Linked DNA regions of Homo sapiens. Changing the gene in region 1 together with any one later gene gives a genetic interaction. Each region holds a gene or a part of one and is shown on either strand. Other genes may lie near its edges. The genes, in order: NFKB1 and PTGS2.

What was found.
Region 2: changes in NFKB1 (region 1) and PTGS2 together harm fitness less than expected from each alone (positive genetic interaction), as found in Homo sapiens cells (one study listed by BioGRID).

The regions. Positions count from the first base shown.
Region 1 is NC_000004.12:102,595,227-102,602,472, forward strand, and holds part of NFKB1 (nuclear factor NF-kappa-B p105 subunit), read left to right. Parts: intron 1-911; coding exon 912-1,106; intron 1,107-2,293; coding exon 2,294-2,435; exon of another isoform or gene 2,436-4,509; intron 4,510-5,668; coding exon 5,669-5,783; intron 5,784-6,418; exon of another isoform or gene 6,419-6,805; intron 6,806-7,246.
Region 2 is NC_000001.11:186,677,354-186,693,791, forward strand, and holds the start of PTGS2 (prostaglandin G/H synthase 2 precursor), read right to left. Parts: upstream 3,071-16,438; 5' UTR 2,938-3,070; coding exon 2,886-2,937; intron 2,086-2,885; coding exon 1,969-2,085; intron 1,849-1,968; coding exon 1,705-1,848; intron 1,052-1,704; coding exon 908-1,051; intron 478-907; coding exon 296-477; intron 1-295. UniProt on the Homo sapiens protein: Dual cyclooxygenase and peroxidase in the biosynthesis pathway of prostanoids, a class of C20 oxylipins mainly derived from arachidonate ((5Z,8Z,11Z,14Z)-eicosatetraenoate, AA, C20:4(n-6)), with a particular role in the inflammatory response.

The DNA.
Region 1 (7,246 bases):
TTGAAAAGAGACAACAGAGACCTGACTATTCAAATATTTTAAACATCATCAAACTTAATGTATTCTGTCTCTTTTTTTCTCAAATAGTACACTTCTGAAATCATTTTGAGTTTTATAGGATCGGTCTTTTCCCATCAAGTCATCCCCTGAGAAGCTGCAGTTAAACCACATGTTGATAGTTTATATTACAGGTCCATTCTAGTGTACCCATGGAAGAAATAATACTATAAAGAAGTCTTCCCATTTATTGAATACCTATTTTTGTGCCAAGTGCTTTTACATGTTTTAACTGTTATCTTCATGACTGCTCTATATGGAAAATAGTAACTCCATTTTGCACACAAAAGGCATCAAAGTTCAGAAATGTTCGTACTCACTGAAGGCACACAGAAGTTAGTGGCAGAACAAGAATTTGAAGCAGGTCTCCTGCAGAAAAGCTAGATGCTCTCATAGTATCTGTCAGATAACATAGTTGAACCTGAAAGAGGGTGATCAGGAATGGTACACTGGATAACTCCCACACTAAAGAATGTGAGTCGACAACACGTCTTTATGATTTGCTTTGTTCATTAGCATTAGGAAAAAACTGCTCTGTTTTCAAGAACTTTAAAAATTCAGCTTTCCTGCAATTCATAGAAGAGCTTTATTTCATTTTTCTCCTTTACAAATAAGCAAAATGAGATTTAAGATTTTAGAAGTATACTAAAAATGATTTTTAGAAATGAGTTTAGAATATCTCCAAAACATGGTATTTATGATATGACCATTTTTAAAAGAATTTTAAATTATTATTTTTCTTTTCCTTTTGCAGCAAACTTGTCTCTTACCTTTATCTGACCTACATTGGAATAGCGAATTATCACTAAATACATTTTACTGAGAAAAATCTGATGTTTTTGCATTTATCTTAGGAACCATGGACACTGAATCTAAAAAGGACCCTGAAGGTTGTGACAAAAGTGATGACAAAAACACTGTAAACCTCTTTGGGAAAGTTATTGAAACCACAGAGCAAGATCAGGAGCCCAGCGAGGCCACCGTTGGGAATGGTGAGGTCACTCTAACGTATGCAACAGGAACAAAAGAAGAGAGTGCTGGAGTTCAGGGTAAGTGAGCACACAAATTACGTTCTGTTGGTTGGCTGGGGAGGGGTCAGTCCTAGGTGCAGAAAGATATCTGCTAATCTAAAGATGATATATCAATATCTAGTTTAGTGTACTCTTCAAAGTTCTGTATGCCTTTGGAAAAGCATATGTCAGATCATTTTATTCACACTGGGATTTCCATTTTTGCTCTGTTATCTTTGAATGTAAAGGACAGAAATTTATATGTACATTCTCCAGTCATAATCATGCAGTTTTAGGGTATTGTGAGAGATAATCAACTTCTTTTCTGGCACAGATAAATAGAGAAGTATTTCCACAAGCTTAATAGTCACCCTGTCTAGATTCTGGCTTAACCGTCATACTGAAATAGAACTTTGCCTTAAAATAGGAACTTTTCTTTTTATCTTGTGCCCTCTTTGAAGAAGTAGGATTAGGAGAAAATGTACTTTTGCGTTTACTGTGAACCAATACTTATTAGCATATGTGTCATGATTCTAGGTCATCCTAGATCGTACTAAGAAGACGTCTATAAAAGCAAAGGTAGTAAATATTTAGAGTTGGTGGCCACATGTGGTGTCTATCACATATGCTTTTTTTTTACACCCCTTTAAAAATGTATAAGCCATGATTAGCTAGGGAGCTATATGAAAAGCAGGCCATAAACAGGTTTTGGCCCAAAGGTCACAAATGCCATTCCCTGACCTTAATGGAACAAACTTTACAAAAACGTGAGTGGCTCATTGAACGTCTCTGTTTATGGCAGAGATGTGTGTTTTTTCACACATTGCCTAACAAGCTAATTGTTAGAGATTCCAATGAAGGATTATTTCACCAAGATATTGGTGATTTAAAATCATGGTAAAATCTAACATTGTTTGGAGATTGTTTTCCTTAAAATAACAGATAATGGTCGTTCCCTTAAAATAATACATTTCTAAACTTTTTTCCTCTAACAAATCATACACAGATTCTTTAAGATCAATCTCTAACTATATTTGTCAGTGACCCAGTGTCCAATTCTGCTTTTTCTAGTCCACACAATCCAAAAGCATTGAAAGAACATTTTCAACTAAAATGATATGTCAAGGTGTCAGAACACTGATGCTGGTCAGTTTGTCCTTAAGCATGCCATACCCATAAAACAAAAGTAGGAACACTCAACTATGATTGTGGTCATTGCCTTACAGATAACCTCTTTCTAGAGAAGGCTATGCAGCTTGCAAAGAGGCATGCCAATGCCCTTTTCGACTACGCGGTGACAGGAGACGTGAAGATGCTGCTGGCCGTCCAGCGCCATCTCACTGCTGTGCAGGATGAGAATGGGGACAGGTAAGTCAGAACTTTTGCATGATAGGTTGTCCTGGGTGGGGAAGAAGAAGAGCATCGTATAATGCATACTGACTAGAGATAAAAATAATTGTTCAAATATATTGAGTCCTCTAACTGGAATGATGAAGAAAAATAATGTGTGAATAAGGTTAAGTAGCACAATTTGCTGCTCCATCCTGCTGCTGTCATCTGTTGGAATCTGTAGTAGCTGGAGGACTCATCTAAGAGTGAATCTCTCTGGGCAAGAAAACTAAGATGTGTGTAGGTAATGGTACTTTTTGAAAAGCCTTGCTTTGTTTATTGAAGTAATATTTGGAGAATTGTTAAGAGTCCTACCAAATCCCTGAAGCATTGTTATCCCAGCTGCATATTTATGACAGTGTACTCAAGAAAAAGCCCAATAAAGGCAGCAACAACAACAGAAAGATTAAGAGGGACTGGTCATTATTTCCCAGTTACTGGTTTCTTCTCTGCTCCCTCTTCTGATGGTCATCAGTCTATGACTGTTTCAGACTTTTGTGACTGCTCCAGCCCATATGTGGGAGTGGAACATTCCAAACACCATGCCTTCCATTCTTGCTATTACTGAGATTGTATTTGCAAAGCCACCTGGCTTCTTTCTAAAACAGTTCTCTTAGTCCTTTCATTGAGACTTCTAAAATGATCTCAAAAGCCTATAAAAATAACAAGAGACAGCAGCCTTCACATTCAAGTCAAGTGCCTTATCTAAAACCTTCCTAAAATAGCATCAACATAGAGAAATCCTTTTCTGTGGAAGAGCTCTTGAGTGCTGTGTTTTAGACTTCAGTTTAAAAATTAAACCAAGCACTTTAGGAAAGTAACAACCTCAGGGTTTCAAGCAGAGACACCTTTGTTCTCATTCCTTGCAACGTAACCAAGGATGTGGTATAACCACTGGCCTTGTTATACAGTATGAGAGGAACCAGTACAACCTTCTTGGTATAAAGCCATGAACAGCAGAATTCTTTTTCAGGGTTAAATAATCCAGTTAGCATTCAGTAGCATACAACCACAAGAAAAAGCAGTTAACCAAGACAGTACAGCAGTGTTTCAAGTGGCATTTCCAGGGACCTGTTAAATTGATAAGTCTAAGAAGATGAGCACATACAGGTTAGAAAGGAAGTGCTGATATCTGAAGGGAGGATTGTTGGAAGGGATACAAGGCGAGGCACATGCAAGTTCCCTCCTAAGACCCAAGCACACTCACACAAGCCGGCTCTCAGAGAGGCCACAGATTTGGGACTTGGAGAGACCAGAGGATCCTCATAAGAGCATAGGTATAGGGCAGCTTTTGGCCATCACAGCCCAAGTCTCTTGTTTTAATTCAGCTCGTCATATTTGGCTAATAGTTTAAATCCTGTGGCCATTAGTCATCATAGAAAATATAATAAAGAAAAATATATAAAACTTCTGCTATTGGGGAAATTCCCATAAGGGTGTGAGGATTTGAGGGGGAGGGGGAATGTACTTCTGCTATGAAATGCTGAGCGGCACATGGAAATTTTCGAGCAGTTTTAGAAGTATGACCTTTTTCTTGGTGTATGTGCATCATGTCTATGTCAGAGTTTAGGCCCTTTTCAGAAGTCTTCTTCCAGTATCACATTTCAAGAAGCAATAGTGAAACCCTGAGATCATCCGTTTTAAAATATTTCTCAAGTAGCAAAATCACAATTTAGTTTTTTAGGCTCTTCTGTGCCGGAGTTAATCCCAAGTACGATATACTTGCTATTGCTAAGGAAGAGGCTTGAGTAAAGTGGCACCTGATAGCTTATTTTAGAGAAGATCCAGCCTGTACCTCGTGTCCCAGATGTAGTGCTGCTGCGAGATGCTTTAGTGTGCTCTGCACCTCAATCTGTCCATGCTCTGGAGTGGTCATCTTCTTAGACATTCATCTGAATGTCTTTAGAACAGTGCACATGTATCCCCTATGCAGGATTGCTTAAGGGATTAAGAGATGGCTTTGGAGTAAGACAGGCCTGGGCTTGAATCCCAGCTTCACCACGTATTGGCCTTGACTGAGTTATATGACGCCTGCAAGTCTCAGTTTCATTAGCTGAAAAGTGAAGATAATATTACCTAACTCATAGGATTATTGTTATAGTAAAAAGACAATATATATCAAATGCTTAGCATAGTCTGGTAAATCAAAGCTCCCAACAAATAGTAGCCACTGGTAAAATGATTGTTATTGTTATTGTTTTGAATTTTAATAGTATGTTTTTTAATAATTAAAAGAATTACGCTCCTGTGAGTGACTTTGACACCACCAGTATGTTCAGCCTCATTAGCGTAAGCTCTTAAGTTCCTTCTATCATTCTTATTTTTGTGCCTCTACTGCATGCTAGGGTTGTAAGGCTGACTCAGACAGAACCTGCCCCAGAGATGACAGGACAGAGAACGAGAAAAATGTGTAGAAAACTGCAGTTGCATAACCAAGCAGTAAATTTGAGAGGGACAACTTGCTCCACCTAGGAGGTTAGGAAAGTATTCTCTGAGGATGTCAGGTTTGAACTGGAATATAAAGGATGGAGTAGGCATTGTTCAGGCAGAAGAAAGGAGCAAAAACATTCCAGGCAGAGGGAATATTTGCTGGAATGTTTGCAGGAGTGGTGGGAAATACAATCACTTTGTTTCTTCACAAGTTTACTGCAAGAATTTTCTTCCAGTAGTTAAAAGCTTCACTCCATTCTCCACTCTTGGGATCTGGAAAGATCTTTAAAAAACCACCACACTGTATTTTGGAGGAGGGCAGCAGGGCTAAGTGAGGTAACTAAGTTTTTCTGAACAATTCCTAGTGCCAGGCATTCATTTTACATAGAATCTGTGTGTCAGGAAAAGTCAGGGGGAAAGGTAGAGAAGAAAACCGCCCAAAGCCATGGTATAGAGGCAGGATTGGGATTTAAGCTTAGGTCTTTCTGGGCTGGAAGCCTCAGTGTGTTTATACATCAAGGGGTCAAGACCTGAATGCTCCCAGAGGCCAGGAAGGTACCACAAATAACGTAGCAGCCTTGGGTAGGCAGTTGGGAGGGACCAGTCCTCTGGAGACAGCATCCCACCTCAGATTCAATGCATTTTATAGATTCAAAACATTTTAGGGCCAAATAAAACTAGGTATGAGAGCAGATTCCATTCTTGAGTCTAATCACATCTTGGGAATCTTTTCTTTTTCATTAACATTTTAGTTAATTATTGCCACTGTGTTTTCATTCCAGTGTCTTACACTTAGCAATCATCCACCTTCATTCTCAACTTGTGAGGGATCTACTAGAAGTCACATCTGGTTTGATTTCTGATGACATTATCAACATGAGAAATGATCTGTACCAGGTAAGCAGAAATCTCAAGAAAACAACTGAAGAAAAATCTGTAGTTTACTTTTTCTTCTGTTATGTTTGGGTGCATGTTATTTTTAGTAATGTTAACAGTAGCAAAAACAAAAACAAACCTTTGTAGGTAATATCTAAAATCCCATTAGTTGAGAATGTTACTTTATGATGTAGGATCCTTTGATCTGTGGGTATAACAGCCATCAAGCCACAATGAAATTCAGCATCCCGCTGGGGGAAGGCAAACTTTAAACTTTAGAAATCAAACAGTTTTTTCATTTAAGAGGGAGAAACTAAAGTAAAAATGTCACATCTGTCAAGAAAAATAAAGTTAAAAAAAGTTTGAAAAGCCAGTAATTTATAATAATTTTGAAGTCTACTGAAACATACCTTGACAACATCCAGATTAAATGTATATCAAATGAAGCATTCTGAAATCACCACACAGAAAGGTTAAAAGTTTGCTTGAGGAGGAAAAGGTGTCTTTCAAAAGCAGAAAGACAGCTCCAAGTGAGGAAAAGTGGGAACACCAGAGTTTTGCCCAAATCAGGTTTTCTTAGGAATTAATTAGGTGGGCTGAAAATACAAGTTGAGGAACTGTTTTTTCCAGAGGTCTTCCAACACTGCAAAGGGAGAGTTAGCTGGAGACACAGCGAGGCCCTTTGATGGGCATATGCAGAATTCAGGGAGAGGCAAGGAGCCTGGGAGCCACTTCGGCAGAAGCAGAGCTTGGACGTTGGTGATGGGAGCCCAGTGACCCCAGCCAGCCTTTCTGGCTGAGCGACTGCACTGGCATGAAACCAAGATGGGGTTCGGCTCCTGAGGTTTCCTCCTTCCTGCCCCTGATTGCTTTTCCCACCTCACTGTCTTTCCCCTACTCCCACCAGTCTGCTGTATGGGGCTCCTGCCCTTGCCCACTTCTTACCTTTCCATTTGTCTCCTTCCCTTCATCGACCCGAAGCATCTTCCTCATCCTCCTTGGAGAGATGGTTTGCTGGTTCACGTGTATCTCTCACTCCAAAACTATGGCCAAAATCCTGTGTAATTATTTACTTAGTAAAGATATTTGTTCCTGCTCTCTCAGTTTTTATAGCAGTGATGTGAATCATTTCTATTTCCTCACTTTAAAGGAAAATGCTTTTATTATTTTAAAGAAAATTAATTAAAACTTCATTTTCTTTAAAGGAAATTAAAATATCTATTTTCTTATTTTTATTTCCATTCTTTAAAATGTGCTTTAGGCTGGGTGCGGTGGCTCACACCTATAATCCCAGCACTTTGGGAGGCCGAGGCAGGCGGATCATGAGATCAGGAGATCGAGATCATCCTGGCTAACATGGTGAAACCCCGTCTCTACTAGAAATACAAAAAAAAAAAAAAAATTAGCCAGGCATGGTGGCAGGCGCCTGTAGTCCCAGCTACTCGGGAGGCTGAGGCAGGAGAATGGTGTGAACCTGGAGGCTG
Region 2 (16,438 bases), on another chromosome or scaffold:
AGTACTAACATTTTAAACTAAAAAATACAAGGGTCAAATTACAAATAACAATACCTGTACATATGTATGTGTGTGAATGTTTATATATGTGTGTGCATGTCTGTGTGTGTGTATAATTTTACTAGACCAGTGAAGTAAATGGAAAATTCCTTTAAGGTTTTTATAGATAAGACTTCTTTTTAAAAAAAGTGGATAAGTTATTTGGATCTATCTATCTGTATATCTCCTTTAATGTTAGCCCTTGACTATGATTTGGTATAATTTTACTAACTCTAAGATATTAACTCTATCTTACCCCATGGCCCAGCCCGTTGGTGAAAGCTGGCCCTCGCTTATGATCTGTCTTGAAAAACTGATGCGTGAAGTGCTGGGCAAAGAATGCAAACATCATGTTTGAGCCCTGGGGATCAGGGATGAACTTTCTTCTTAGAAGCAATTTTTCCACAATCTCATTTGAATCAGGAAGCTGCTTTTTACCTGAAAAATGAGAAAGCTAAGGTAAGAATCCATCTATGTATTCAAGAAAGGAGATGGTGACTGTCAATCTACCAAGAATTCTTCATTTATATGAGAATTACAATTGTGAATAGGATCATAATATAAACAACAGTTCTAAGATATGGTGGAACAACTTCTTACTGAATGATTTTATCTATTTTAATTAGAATTATTTCATTTCTAAAGAAATAATTTGAAAATATTAAGACATTATACCAAGACGCTCATTTGCTTTTACATAATAGTTTATATAGACTCATACTTTAAAAAATACCCATAGATAACCATGCTAAAAGTAAAAACTGCTTTTGTTAATAAATAAATGGTAGTCTAAGGTCAATTTTTTTTTTTGGCAGCAATGCAGCCCGTCTTATAGTTAATACATCTCTAATGGATTCTTCTTACTCACCTTTGACACCCAAGGGAGTCGGGCAATCATCAGGCACAGGAGGAAGGGCTCTAGTATAATAGGAGAGGTTAGAGAAGGCTTCCCAGCTTTTGTAGCCATAGTCAGCATTGTAAGTTGGTGGACTGTCAATCAAATGTGATCTGGCTGAAATTTTCAAAGAAAAAAATGTTTTATTTATTCTCATTTGTTAAGTAAATCAACCATTATTTTTATTGTAAAATGTGGAAAGTGGCACCTGAGGTTGAATGTAACTCCAAAATAAAAAAAATCTATTTTTAAACAACTACACTTTATAGTCTAATGGCCACTTGAAATACATCTTTAATAAAATACATATACTCTGCACATTATAATCTGGCAATATTGATTTTTCAGGTAGCCATCTGCTCACTATCCAAGAGGCCTATGAAAGGAATGGCTGAGTATGGCACCCACTTTAGAATCATGGAAAGTTATTTTCTTGCTGATCCAAATCCAAATTTATTTTAATGGGTGCTACATGTTCAGAACAATTCTGTGGCCCATGGGCATTCAATAAACAGCTGGACCATGCTACCTCCACAAACTGACCAAACAGTAAAGGTTAGAAGAGGTATACAGAGTTGTGAGCAGACTGTATAAACTGGATGGGACTAAATGTCAATATTTTTGGCGATTAAGATGGAAGGCAAACTTAAAAGCTATCTTAAAGTCTTTTTGATAAGCTTGGAAATATGTTTTTAGATTAGGCTTACAGTATTATAAAGCATATTTTTCTTTGAGAAGGCTAAAAACCTTAGAAAGACACTTGTACTTACATGTCAACACATAACTCATAATTGCATTTCGAAGGAAGGGAATGTTATTCACAACGTTCCAAAATCCCTTGAAGTGGGTAAGTATGTAGTGCACTGTGTTTGGAGTGGGTTTCAGAAATAATTTTATTCTTGTCAAAAATTCCGCTGCAAGAAGACGAAGAAAGGGAGGGAGAAATTAATGGGACTCATTATAAGACACAAATCTATACAATGATAACTGTATCCAGCCCCACTCCTAATGAGGCAACCAAAGGACAAACTTACGTGTTGAGCAGTTTTCTCCATAGAATCCTGTCCGGGTACAATCGCACTTATACTGGTCAAATCCCACACTCATACATACACCTCGGTTTTGACATGGGTGGGAACAGCAAGGATTTGCTGCAATTAAAGGACAGCAAATAAATCATTCTCTAGTGTCTTAATCTTAATTTAAACATTTAATTGTTTGACTATGAATCAACTTTACAATAATAAATTCAAGAAATATATAGGTAGTCATGGAAATACAATTTTTTAACCTGCCTTAGAATGGATAAAACGTAGAAATACCAATTTTCTATTCTAAATAAGGATAACAGCATATTCAACTTGGTACATCATGTTACTAAGCTTTTCTTAGTTAACTCTTTAGATGTTAAAATTAGCATTTTTAAGAAGTTCAAATAAGTAGCACTTCACTTTCCAAATTAAAATGGATCTAGTACACTAATCAACATTTAGGGAAAAATTCAAAGTAAAACAGCTTACTTTTAAGACATTTTGCTTATCTTAAAACATAATCCGGGCTTTCCTGGGAGCAGGAAAGAACTGACTAGAATATTTAAAACAACTTCTTCCACTCAATAAAAAGGTTCCAAATATAAACAATTCACATATATTGATCAGATCCTGTCTTATCATAATGACAACCTGCAAATTAGTATCATCTATCCCTATTTAGGAGGTGAGAGTGTCTCAGATCGGTTAAGTAACTGGCTCATAATGATCAGTGCTTGTGGGAAAGCTGGAATATCCACGGAGTTCTTTCGAACTCTAGCGGTCCAAGCTCTTTCCCAAGTCACGTAGCTTCTCTATTCGGAGAGAAGTCGGAGTACTGGGATAGACCCAGGAGGTCAGAGCGGAAACTCTGCCCGGGTGCGTGGAACCGGAGTCCCCGGTGCGCGGCGCCAGGTACTCACCTGTATGGCTGAGCGCCAGGACCGCGCACAGCAGCAGGGCGCGGGCGAGCATCGCAGCGGCGGGCAGGGCGCGGCGCGGGGGTAGGCTTTGCTGTCTGAGGGCGTCTGGCTGTGGAGCTGAAGGAGGCGCTGCTGAGGAGTTCCTGGACGTGCTCCTGACGCTCACTGCAAGTCGTATGACAATTGGTCGCTAACCGAGAGAACCTTCCTTTTTATAAGACTGAAAACCAAGCCCATGTGACGAAATGACTGTTTCTTTCCGCCTTTTCGTACCCCCCACAAATTTTTCCCTCCTCTCCCCTTAAAAAAATTGCGTAAGCCCGGTGGGGGCAGGGTTTTTTACCCACGGAAATGAGAAAATCGGAAACCCAGGAAGCTGCCCCAATTTGGGAGCAGAGGGGGTAGTCCCCACTCTCCTGTCTGATCCCTCCCTCTCCTCCCCGAGTTCCACCGCCCCAGGCGCACAGGTTTCCGCCAGATGTCTTTTCTTCTTCGCAGTCTTTGCCCGAGCGCTTCCGAGAGCCAGTTCTGGACTGATCGCCTTGGATGGGATACCGGGGGAGGGCAGAAGGACACTTGGCTTCCTCTCCAGGAATCTGAGCGGCCCTGAGGTCCGGGGGCGCAGGGAATCCCCTCTCCCGCCGCCGCCGCCGTGTCTGGTCTGTACGTCTTTAGAGGGTCGAGGAAGTCACGTCGGGACAGACTGGGGCGAGTAAGGTTAAGAAAGGCTGACATGTTTTATGTTTTAGTGACGACGCTTAATAGGCTGTATATCTGCTCTATATGCAGCACATACATACATAGCTTTTTAAAAAACTCTTATTTTGTGGAATGAAATAGCTACCTTCAGTGTACATAGCTGTAATTTATCTTTGTAGCTAAGTTGCTTTCAACAGAAGAAATACTGTTCTCCGTACCTTCACCCCCTCCTTGTTTCTTGGAAAGAGAGGCGGGAAAGGTAAATTCTCCTCATAATACTGGTCCTAAGCAGTTACCCTGTAAATAGTTAATGTGAGCTCCACGGGTCACCAATATAAAGTTTCCTGCCTTCTGATGGACAAAGGAAGCGGCGATGGCCAGAATTTGCAGGGACGCTAAATGTCCAAAACGTATGCCTTAAGGCATTTCTCTCCCTGATGCGTGGATTATTTTGGTTACTAGCCCTTCATAGGAGATACTGGTAAAATAAATTCGAGTTTTAAAGTTCACTCTTTTGTCTTTTCTGTCCACTTTTCCAAGATTATGAGTTGTGACCATGGATCAAAGTACAACATAGCATTTACTTTTCAGTTGCCTGGGCTTATTGGGGCTAATTTTCTATTCTCGTTTTGGAACATAGTTGGATGAGGAATTAATTAGATGGAAGGGAGATTTTGACAGTTGGAATTTCATCTTTGCTTTTGTTTAACATCTATCATGGGTAGTGCTCAGGGAGGAGCATGTGAGGGTGAGATACTAAAAAATATATATATGTATATGTGTGTGTGTATATATACATATATATATACACACACACCAGAAAAGAAGTGGAAAATAGAAAATTCAGTTATGTCCTAAGTCCTTAGCATTACAGGAAAATGACAGCATAAAACCTGAAATAAAACTACACCAGGTACCTCAATTTGTAGAAGTCTTATAAGAAAAAAATAAATAAGAGACTCACTTGGAGGTTTTTTTTTTAACTGTTTTGCTTAGTGTACACATCTGATTCTTCATGAGACACGGATGACTAAAATTCCATCTCATCTAGGAAGCCTTTCTCCTCCTCTAGTCATATTTCATCATTCCATTTATGGCACTCCTATTTATTGCATGGAATCTTACATGAAATTTCAACTAAGAGCGTGGATCATTTTCTTTTTGATAATTTAATAATTTCAATCTTCTGTTTCATTTTAAAGGAGTAGGTTGCATCTACTGAAATTTGAAGTTTATAGTTAGAGCTACTAATGTTAGTTTGGGTTAGAAGCCATGTTAGAATCCATACTGTGAGAGAGTACTAAAATTTTACATTACAATCCTGAATTCATTTTGAAGTGATCATCATCATTGTCTTCCTTATCAGACATTAATTGTTCTGTTGTCTGAAAAGAGATTTGGATACAAAAGTGAGGGAAAAACAGGGCATAAGGAATAATTATATTTAGATTATTTTAAACTCAAAGGAATTGAACTCCATCTATCCCATAGTGGAAATTCTGTCACTTATATAGCAGGATAGAGTGAAGAGTTCCATGTACTTGGAAAGTCAAAAAAAAAAGTTCAAGGAGAATCTGGGACTTTAAGGATGGGCAGAGTTTTAGAAAGAAGTGCAAATCTGAGCATAAGGAAAAAAGTTACATAATTTATTAAATAACTGACAATTCTGAGACAATAAAATAAAACGGATAGGTACATTTGGGATGCTGGTCATGGGAGTGTATTAAATGTGCCAAACTAAATTAAGACCACTAAACCTGTTTTATATGGAAAAGTACTGTGACTATTGTGTACCATAAAAAAAAGGTTTGATCATGTAAAACTTATAGCTCTCATGTTTGCATATATTCAATGTTTCTGTGTCTATTTTAGGCAAATATATGGATCTGTTGTACAAAATTTCTATTAGCGTCTGAAATTTGTTGGGAAATAATCTACATGAAAAGAAAATAAGGAAGAATCTTAAAAATCTTCCAGAGCTTTCTGTTGAGTTTTACTGCCCCCTTCTGCTGCTTGAAATTTTGTCAACTTTTTTCCTAAGATGCTAGGAAGATTGCCAGACAGATTTTGTGTTTAATTTTATAATGTTCTAAACATTCACATGTTGCACTGTTCATTTCAGATTTGTTTCATGAATATGTTGAAAAGAAATGAAATATTTATTAATTGAAGTGATAAGCCATTCATGTGAGTTAAAAGAAAATGAACAATAAAGACTCTTAATGTCCAAAATTCCAAATAAACTAACTTTTTTTTCCCTTCCTTGTACTTTGAGCAGGGTTCTACTACTCATACATACAGATCCATTATCTCAGGCAAGGGTCCTCTTTCTATTTCCCTCGTTTCTTCTTTGGTGGGTTTAGTGGTTCACTTAGAGAGTGGAGATCACCCCTTGTCTTCTTTCTTTCATGGCATGTTGGCTGAAAAAAGAGCTTTGTGTCAGGGTTATTCTTAGTATACTTTGGCAAGGTTATGCCATGAAGTTTATCTCTTCCTTGAGTAGCAGAAATGTTACTTACAGAAGATCTTTACGTTAGTCCTTTAGTAAAGCCTGATTATTTACCCATTCTTAGCTACACAAGAAGTTTTGAGGCTATAAACGAAAGCACATAATTTGTTAAATTAAGAAAAGTCCTTTCACATAAGTCAATGAAGAAACACTTAAAAAATCTATTTCTAAGTTTTATAAAACACTGATCTCCTTTCTTTTTCTCAAATATCTCAATTCTTTGATGGATTTTTCTTTTACTTCATTTTTTTTTGTGATTGTTCATTATAATACTCAGATGAGCCAAAGTAGTTGAATGAGTTGAACACAGTCTTTGTATTGGACCTAGAAATCTCACAAGGGGACAAGGAAGGGAAAGAGAGTGTGAGGTGGGGGCACTGGAGCAGGCAGGATGTGAACATACCCACGCACAGAATATGAGGCTTAGGACTTTCAGTTTCTGATCTGGCATGTCAGGGAGGAGCTTGGAAATTGTCACTTCATCCTAAAAACAAGTAAAAATCTAAGCAAACTGAAAAATCAACACTCTCAGAACTGTCAGAGAAGTGAGGCGACAGGTCATAACCCTACTTAAAAAATTTGAAAGACAGACCATACAAGAAGAACAACTTACTGGAGCAGAAATGCACAGGCAGAAACCTCCATGAAAACCAGTACCTGGGTAGGAAAACCTGAACTGTAATTGATGAATTTCTGGAGGTTCAGTGCAGATAAGTCTGCAAAGGAAAAATTCTGGAAGACTCCCACACTTTTGTGAGTTTTGCTTCCTGGAGCTCTACGAGGTTCTCGCAGTGAATATCAGAGAAAACTCCCCCTCAGCTCCATCAGAGTATAGTGTTCTTAATAAGGCCTATACTCAAGAGAAATTATTTTATAATATTAGAGCCTAAACTGTCGGGATTTTTGTCGCAGCCTAACTGAATTAGAAGAAGGAAAATATCCAAATTTAACTGCCTCTAGCTTTCCATACAGGGGAAGAAAAATACCCAACTCCAGCCCTCTCTTTAGCTTCTACATTGGAGAAGGGAAATACCCAATTCTAGCCCCCCCCCAGTGATCTTGTCCCACTTAAGGACAGGAAAAGAGTGGAATGAAAAGCACTTGTTGAAAGTCACCGTTCATAGGCACAGGCTCACTAAAAGGCCGAGACCTGCTATAGGACTATAGAATGCTTCACTTCCCCTGAACTCTTATCGTCACATTACAATGTATTGAGTTTCTTTCACTCAGTACATCATGCCTGGCTTTCAACAAAAAATTAGAAGTCACACTAAAAGACAAAAACATAGCTTGATAAGACAGAGCAAGCATCAGAATCAATGTCAAATATGGTAGAGATGTTGAAATTACAATACCTATGAAATTAAAACAACTGCAATTACTATGATAAGACAACACACAAGAATAGGTTGGTAATGTAAGTAGACAGATGGCAATTCCAAGAAATAATCAGAGAAATGCTAGAGATCAAAAACACTGGAACAGAAGTCAACAATGTCTGTAAGGGCTTATTAGTAGACTGGACATGGCAGAGGAAAGAATCCCTGCGATTGCAGATATATAAATAGAGACTTCTAAAACTGAGAATCAAAGAAAAAAACACAGAAGAAAACCAAAACATAATATCTAAGAAATATGGGGCAACTATAAAAGGTGTAATATACAGAGAAGGAAAGAAGGGAAGGAGAAGAGAGAAAGGAACAGAAGCAATCTTTTAAGTAATAATGATAAGAATTACATCTGACTTCTTCTCAGATACCATACAAAGAAGAAAAGAGTGGAATGAAATATTTCACTTTGAGGGGAAAAAACCTACAACCTAGAATTCTGTACCCTACAAAATTATCTTTCAAAAGTGAAGGAGAAATAAGGTTTTCTCAGACAAATGAAAATTGAGGCATTCTGTGGCCAGTAGATCTGCTTTGTGAGAAATGTTAAAAGAAGTTATTGAGATAAGAAAAATGATACAGGTTAGAAACTTGGATCTACATACTAAAGAAACAAAGAGCATTAGAGAAGAAATAAGTGAAGATAAATAAAAATAATTCTTTTTCATTTTTTTTTTGAGACAGGGTCTCACTCTGTCACTTAGGCTGGAGTGCAGTAGCTTGATTTTGGTTCACTGCAACCTCTGCCTCCCAGGCTCAAGCAATCCTCTCACCTCAGCCTCCCGAGTAGCTGTGACCACAGGCCCATGCCACCATGCCCAGCAATTTTTTTTTTTGTATTTTTAGTAGAGACAGGGTTTCACTATGTTGCCCAGGCTGGTCTCGAATTCCTGAGCTCTAGCAATCCATCGGTCTCCCAAAGTGCTGGGATTACATGAGTAAGCCACTGCACCTGGCCTATTTTTCTTATTTTAAATAGATATAATAGATAACATGTTTTGAAATAATAATAGCAATAATGTATTGAAAGATTACAGCTTATGTACAAGTGAAATGAATAACAGTAAAGATACAAAGAATGAGAGAAAGAAATTAGGAGTGACTTCTTATTATTAGGTACTTGCACTAGCCATGAAACAGTATTGTGTTTTTTGAAAGGAGAATTGGACTGGTTGTAAATGTACATTGCAACCTTCAGGGCAGCCACTAAAAAAGTCAAAAAGAAAGATAATTCATATGCTGAGAAGGGAGAGAAAATAGAATGATATAAAATACTCAAAACCTAAATTAACAGAAAAAGGAGCAAAAAATAGGAGCAGAAAGTAAGGGCAATGAAAAATAGAAAACAGTAACAAACGGTAGATATTAATTATTAATTTGTCTATATCAATAATCAATTTAAGCAGCTCTCTGGGTAATCACAGGGATGAGGATAAAAAAATAAGTATCAATGGTCTAAATACATCAATTAAAACATAGAGATTGTTAGAGTGGATCAAACCAATACCCAAGTATTTCTTTTTATTTTACTTCCCACCCTACCAAGTATATGTTTTCTATAAGAACCCCACTTTAAATACAAAGTCAAGTATACATTAAAAGTGTAAGAATAGAGAAAGAGAGAGCATGCTAACACTAATCAAATAAAGCCAGAGTAGTTCTGTTAATTTCCAACAGGGCAAACTTCTGAGCAAGAAAAATTATCAGGAATAAAGGGAAATGTTACATGTTATGGAAAGGTAAATTCTCCAAGAAGACATAACAATTCTTAATGTGTATGTGCCAAACAATGGAGCATCAATATATATAAGACAAAATTGATAAAACTGCAAAGAAAAATAGATTAATTCATTATTATGGTTGGAGACTTCAACAGCCTTGTGTCAGAAATAGACAGATACAGCAGACAGAAAATCATTTAGGACATAGCTGAACTCAACAGCACCATTAATCAACGAGATGTAACTGACATCTATAGACTACTTTATCCAATAACAGCAGAACATACATTATTCTCTAAGGAACATATAGCAAGATAAACCGCATTCTGCACCATAAGACACACCTTAACACATTTACAAGAATATAAATCATACAATATATGCTCTCAGGCCACAATAGAATTAAACAAGAAATGAATAATAGAAAGATAGCTGAAAAACTCCCAAATATTTGGAGATCACACGGAACACTTCTGAATAACACATGGGTCAAAGAGAAATCCCAATAGAAATTAAGAACCTCTTTTGAGCTAAATAACAATAGAGTTGAAATATTGTAGGATGCAGTGAAAGCAATGCTTAGAGGGAAATTTATAGCATTGAGTGCTGTAATAGAAAAGAAGAAAGATCTAAAATCAATAATATAAGCTTCTATTTTAGGAGACTACAAAAAAGAAAAGTAATTAAATTCAAAGTAAGCAGAGGAAAAGAAATAATAAAAAATTAGAGTAGATATCAATCAAATCAAAAACAGAAAATCAAAAAAGAAAATGGGTAAAACCAAAAAGGTGGTTCTTTTAAAAGACATAAAGTTAATTACTCTAGTCAGGCTAAGGAAAAAAAGAGAAGACACAAATTATTAGTATCAGAATTGAGAGCTCCACTGTGGTGGCTCATGCCTGTAATCCTGGCACTTTGGGAGGCCAAGGCAAGAGGATTGCCTAAGCCCAGGAGTTCGAGGTTAGTGAGCTATGATCACACCAGTGCACTCCAGCCTGGGTACCAGAGGAGACCTTGTATCTAAAAGTTTTTTTTAAACTAGAAATAGTAGAGGAGACATCACTACAGATCCCATGGACATTGAAAGGATAATAAAGGAATACTATGAACAACTTTTGACCACAGATTTGATAACCTAGATGAATTTCTAGAAGGTACAATCTGCCAAAATTCACACAATAAGAAATTGACAATCTGAATTGGCCTATCCCTATTTAAAAAATTGAATCGATAATTAATAACCTTCCAAAACAGAAAGAATCAAGCTCATATAAGTTCACTGGTGAGTACTACTAGACATTTAAGAAAACATTATACCAATTCTTTGTAATCATTTTCAGAGGATAGAAGCAGAAAAGAATATTTTCTAACTCATTCTATAAGGTCAGCATTACCTCATAGACTGTAAAGGCATTACAAGAACATAAAATAACATACCAATATCTCTCATGAACATATATGCAAAACGACTCAACAAAATGCTGGTAATCCAGTCCAACAATATATACAAATAATTATGCAACATGACCAAGTCAGATTTGTCCCAGTATGTAAGGCTAGCTTAACATTAAACATTTAATTGAAAATCTATCACATGAACAGAGTAAAGAAGAAAAATCACACAATTAATAGTGCAGAAAAAAGCATTTGACAAAGTCCAATACCCATCATAATAAAAACAAACAACAAAGTAGAAATAGAGGGAAGATTCCTCAAGTTGACGATTAACATCTACAAAAAACTAATAGCTAACACTGTAATTAATGATGGGGGACCAGAAGCTTTCTTACTAATACCAGAAGTGAGACAATTTTGTTCTTTCTCACCATTCATTTTCTTTTTTCTTTCTTTCTTTATTTTTTTTTGAGATGGAGTCTCACTCTGTCACCCAGGCTGGAATGCAGTGGTGTGATCTTGGCTCACTGCAACCTCTTCCTCCCAGGTCCAAGCAATTTTACTGAGTAGCTGGGATTACAGGAGTGTGCCACCATGCCTGGCTAGTTTTTGTATTTTTAGTAGAGGCAGGATTTCACCATGTTGGCCACGCTGGTCTTGAACTCTTGACCTCAAGTGATCCGCCCACCTCGGCCTCCCATTGTGCTGGGATTACAGACAGGAGTGATCCACTGTACCTGACTCATCACCCTTTTTCATCATCATACTGGAAGCCCTAGTCAATGCAATAAGACAAAAATAAATAAATAGATAAATAAGTAAATAGATAAATGGTATACAGATTGTGAAGGAAGAAATAAAACTGTTTTTGTTTGCAAATGATATGACCATCTATGTAGAAAATTTATAAAGACTGACCAAAAAACTCCTGGAGCTAAGAAGTGATTATAGCAACATTGCAGCATGCAAGGTTAACATACATAAGTCAACCACTTTCCTGTATACCAGAAATCAACAAGTGGAATTTGAAATTAAAAACACATTACCATTTACATTAACACCCTCCAACATTAAATATTTAGGTATAAATCTAACTAAATATATATGAGATCTGTATAAGAAAAATGACCAAACTGATGAAAATATCAGAAGAACTAAATAAATGGAGAGATATTACATGTTCATAGCTAGAAAGACTCATGATTGTCAAGATTTCAGTTCTTCTTAAATTAATCTATAGATACAACATAATTTCAATAAAAATTCCAGCATATTGTGTTGTGGATGTTGACAAACTTATTCTAAAGTTTATATGGAGGCTGGGCACAGTGGCTCCTGCCTATTATCCTAGCACTTTGGGAGGCTGAGGCAGGAGGATTGCTTGAGCCTAAGAGTTCAAGACCAGCCTGGGCAACATAGTGAAACTCTGGGTTTACAAAAAAATTAGCTGGGCCTGGTGGTGCATGCCTGTAGTCCCAGCTACTCAGGATACTGGGAGGGGAAGATTCCCTGAGCCCAGGATGTTGATGCTGCCATGAGCTGTGATCAACACCACTGGTCTTCAGCCTGGGCAATAGAGTGAGAACCCTGTCTCAAAAAAAGGAAGTTTATGTGGGAAGGCAAAAGACCCAAAAAAGCCAACTCATTACTGAAGGAGAAGAACAAAGTTGCAGGACTGACACTATCTTACTTCAAGACTTACTATAAAGCTACAGTAGTCAAGACAGCATAGTATTTGCAAAAGAATCGACAAATAGATCAATAGAATAGATAGGGTCCAGAAATAGGCCCACATAAATATAGTCAATTAATTTTTGACAAGGGATACATGGCAATACAATGGAACAAAGATAGCATTTTCAACAAATGGTGCTAGAAAAACTGAACATCAACAAGCAAAACAAAAAAATAAAAAATAAAAAAGTCTCTTGATACAGACTTTACACTTTTAATAAAAAAGTTAACTCAAAATAGGTTATAGACCTAAATGTAAAATGTAAAATTATAAAAGTCTTAGATGATAACATAGAAGGAAATCTAGACGGATTTGGGTATGGCAATGATTTTTTTTTAGATACACAAGGGCATGATTCATGAAAAAAGTAATTGACAATTTGGACTTCAGTAAAATTAAAAACATCTGCTTCACAAACTCACTGTCAAAAACGAATGGGAAGACAAGTCCCAGACAGGGAGAAAATATTTGCGAAAAACATTTCAGATAAAGGACAGTTATCCAAAATATACAAAGATGTCTTAAAACTCAAAAATAGGAAAACAAACAATCCAGTTAAAAAATAAGTCAAAGGCCTGAATAGACACAGTGCCAAAGAATACACATGTAATACATGGCAAATAAGCATATGAAAAGATTTACCACAACACATGTCTTCAGGGAAATGCAAATTAAAACAAAAATGAGATAATACACACCTATTGGAATGGCCAAAATCCAGAACATTGTCAACACAAAATACTGGTGAGGAAATGAAACAAGCAAAACTTTCATTCATTGCTAATGGAAATGCAAAATAGTATAACCATTTTGGAGGATGGCTTGGCAGATTCTTACAAAAATGAACATACTCTTAATACCCGATCCAGCAGTCACACACCTTGATATTTACCAAAATGAGCTGAAAAGTATGTCCATACAAAAGCTGCATGCAAATGTTTTTGGCAACTTTATTCTTAATTTCAAAAACTTGGAAACAATCAAGATGTACTTCAGAAGGAGAACGGATTAATTGTGATATATTCAGTCAGTAGAGCATTAGTCAGCAGTAAAAGAAAATGTGGTACCATCATATATTTAAGACATGGAGGAATCTTAAATATATATTACTAAGTGAAAGAAACCTATCTGAAAAGGATACCTACCGTAGGATTCCAGCAATATGATATTCTGGAAAAGGTAAAGCTATGGAGACAGTAAAAGGAGTAGTGGTTGCCAGAAGTTGGGATTGGGGGTGAGGATGAAAAGGCAGAACGCAAAGGATTTTTAGGGCAGTGAAACTATTCTATAAGATACTATAATGGTGGATAGAAGGCTGGGCGCTGTGGCTCGTGCCTGTAGTCCCAGCATTTTGGGAGGCCGAGGCGAGCGGATCACGAGGTCAGGATATCGAGACCATCCTGGCTAACACGGTGAAACTCCATCTCTACTAAAAAGAAATACAAAAAAATTAGCCGGACATGGTGGTGGGCTCTGGTAGTCCCAGCTACTCAGGAGGCTGCGGCAGGAGAATGGCATGAACCCGGAAGGCGGAGCTTGCAGTGAGCCTAGATGGCACCACTGCACTGCAACCTGGGCGACAGAGCGAGACTCCGTCTCAAAAAAAAAACAAACAAACAAACAAAAAAAAAAACATGGTGGATACGTGTCTTTATACATTTTTAAAACCATAGCATGCACAACACCAAGAATGATCCCTGGGGTAAACTAGGGACTTTGGGTGATACTGATGTGTCAATGTAGATTCATTGATTATAGTAATTGTATCACTCTGGTGAGGAATGCTGATAGCACATGAGCTTTTCTTGTAAAGAAAGGTACAGGGGTTCTATGGGAACTCTTCGTACTTTCTGCTCAATTTTGCTGTGACTCTGAACTGGGCTTAAAATGAACTCATTTTGCATATTAATTCTACCTTTTATAGATATTACATTTCATTATTAGTGGTGTGAGAAAACAACATCCACCACACGAGCCACAGGACTGTTTTGCGGAAGGCGATGCATATTTGTTTGCTGATTCTTGATAATCATTGGGAAAAAGCTTCAAGGTTAAATGCTGTGTAGATTGAATAGTGTCAGATGCTCATTGAGATACTCATGGAAAGTTTACTTCCTTTCTTAACTAAAACCTCACTCTACCCTAAGGACAAGGATTGCTTTGCAAACATCTGAAAAATGTATTCCTTCTCTCACCCCCGTCATTTCCAAAGATGGCATTTATGTGAAGCCTCTTTCTTCCTCTCTTGAATCACTACTCTCTTGTTTTAGAGGTTCACATCTTTCCCAATAGCTTCGACAAGCACTTCAGGGTTTCTTGCTTCCAAAGCTTTACCTCTATCCCTTACTCTTACCTGAAGCTCAAAACCATTTGAGAAATTGTCCCCTGGATCTTTTCATATTACCGTACTAAAAACTCAACTTATCCTCTTAACAAAAAATGATTTTCCTTTAATATTTTCCATAGGAATGAACAGGTTCACAATTCACCAAGATTTATTATTAGTATTCATCAACATCTAATGTGCTACATATTTTACTTTCATATTTTGTTTACTACCTGTCTTCCCCTTCCAAATATGTAAATTCCATGAAGGTCAAATTTTTGTCTGCTTTGTTTACTGTTATATTCCAAGCACCTAGAAAAATGACTAGCATATACTAGTACTCAATACTTATTGAATAAATGGCTGAATCTATCTTCTTTGAAATCAACTTCAAAAATTAGATGACCTTCATTTTATCATGTAGCTATTTCCTAAAAATATAATTTTAAAATCAAAGTCATCAGCATTTTTGAAGCCCTTAATTTTTTTTTCAAATGTAAAGGAGTAAGACTAAAAAAGCTCTTTTTAAAATGCAATTGTTGTTGCAGACACTGCGGGAGTCATCTCGGTGTGATGACTGGAGCTGTTGCAGCCATTTTGCACCTGAAGAACAAGTCTTATATCCATGATATAAGAAAAAAATGCTAAAAAGAACCCTAGTTTTTGATGGTATTATTGAGAAGGAGTCCTGATCAATTTCCCATAGACCTTGCCCAACCTATACATTTATTGTTTAATAAGTCCCAACAGCTACACATAAGCAGTTGGGCTGAATATATGTCAATTTTAAGGTCTCCTAGTTTTTAAACATGTACAGATGGCCCTTGAAAAACACAGTTTGAACTGCATGGATCCACTTATATGCAATTTTTGCAATAAATATATTGGAAAAATTTTTAAGACATGTTTGACAATTTGAAAAATCTCACAAACTATGTAGCCAAGAAATATTGAAAAAAAGAGAAAAGGTTAGGTATGTCACAATTCATGAAATATACAGATACTAGTCTATTTTATTATTTACTACCATAAAATATATACAAATCTGCTATAAAAAATTAAGATTTCTCAAAACCTAACACATAAACACTGACAGACCATACATGGTGCCATTTGCAATGAAGAGTAATATAAACAAATGTAAAGATGTAGCATTAGACTATAGCTGCATGAAATTAACTGTAGTACATACTGTACTTTGGTAATAAATTCAGAGCCAGCTCCTGTTGGTATTGTACTGCCCTCAAGTGTGGTGGTTACCTGCTTCAAACACCTCCCTGTGATGCTAATCACCTCCACTTGAGCAGTTCATCTCTCCAGTAAATTGTGTATCCCAGTAAAAAGTAATCTCTGATGGTTCTTGTGTCTTTTTCATCATGTTTAGTGCAATACTGTAAACCCTGACTAACACCTTGGGACCCATACAAAGTGCCATTAGTGATGCTGGAAGTGCTCTCAAAAAGCAGAGAAAAGTCGTGACATTACAAGAAGAAGTTGAATTGCTTGATATGTACCATAGATTCAGGTCTGCAGCTTCAGTTTCCCACCATTTTAAGATAAATGAATCCAACATAAGGACCACTGTAAAAAAAAAATAGAAAAGGAAATTCGTGAAGCTATAGCTGTAGCCACACCAGCAAGTGTGAGAACCTTGCACTTTTTGCAAAATATCATTTTACTTTTGTGGAAAATGCAGCTTTTATGTGAATGCAGGATTACTATAAAAATCATATCTATAGTTAGACTCTAATATTATTTGAGTCAAAAATGAAGTCTTTAT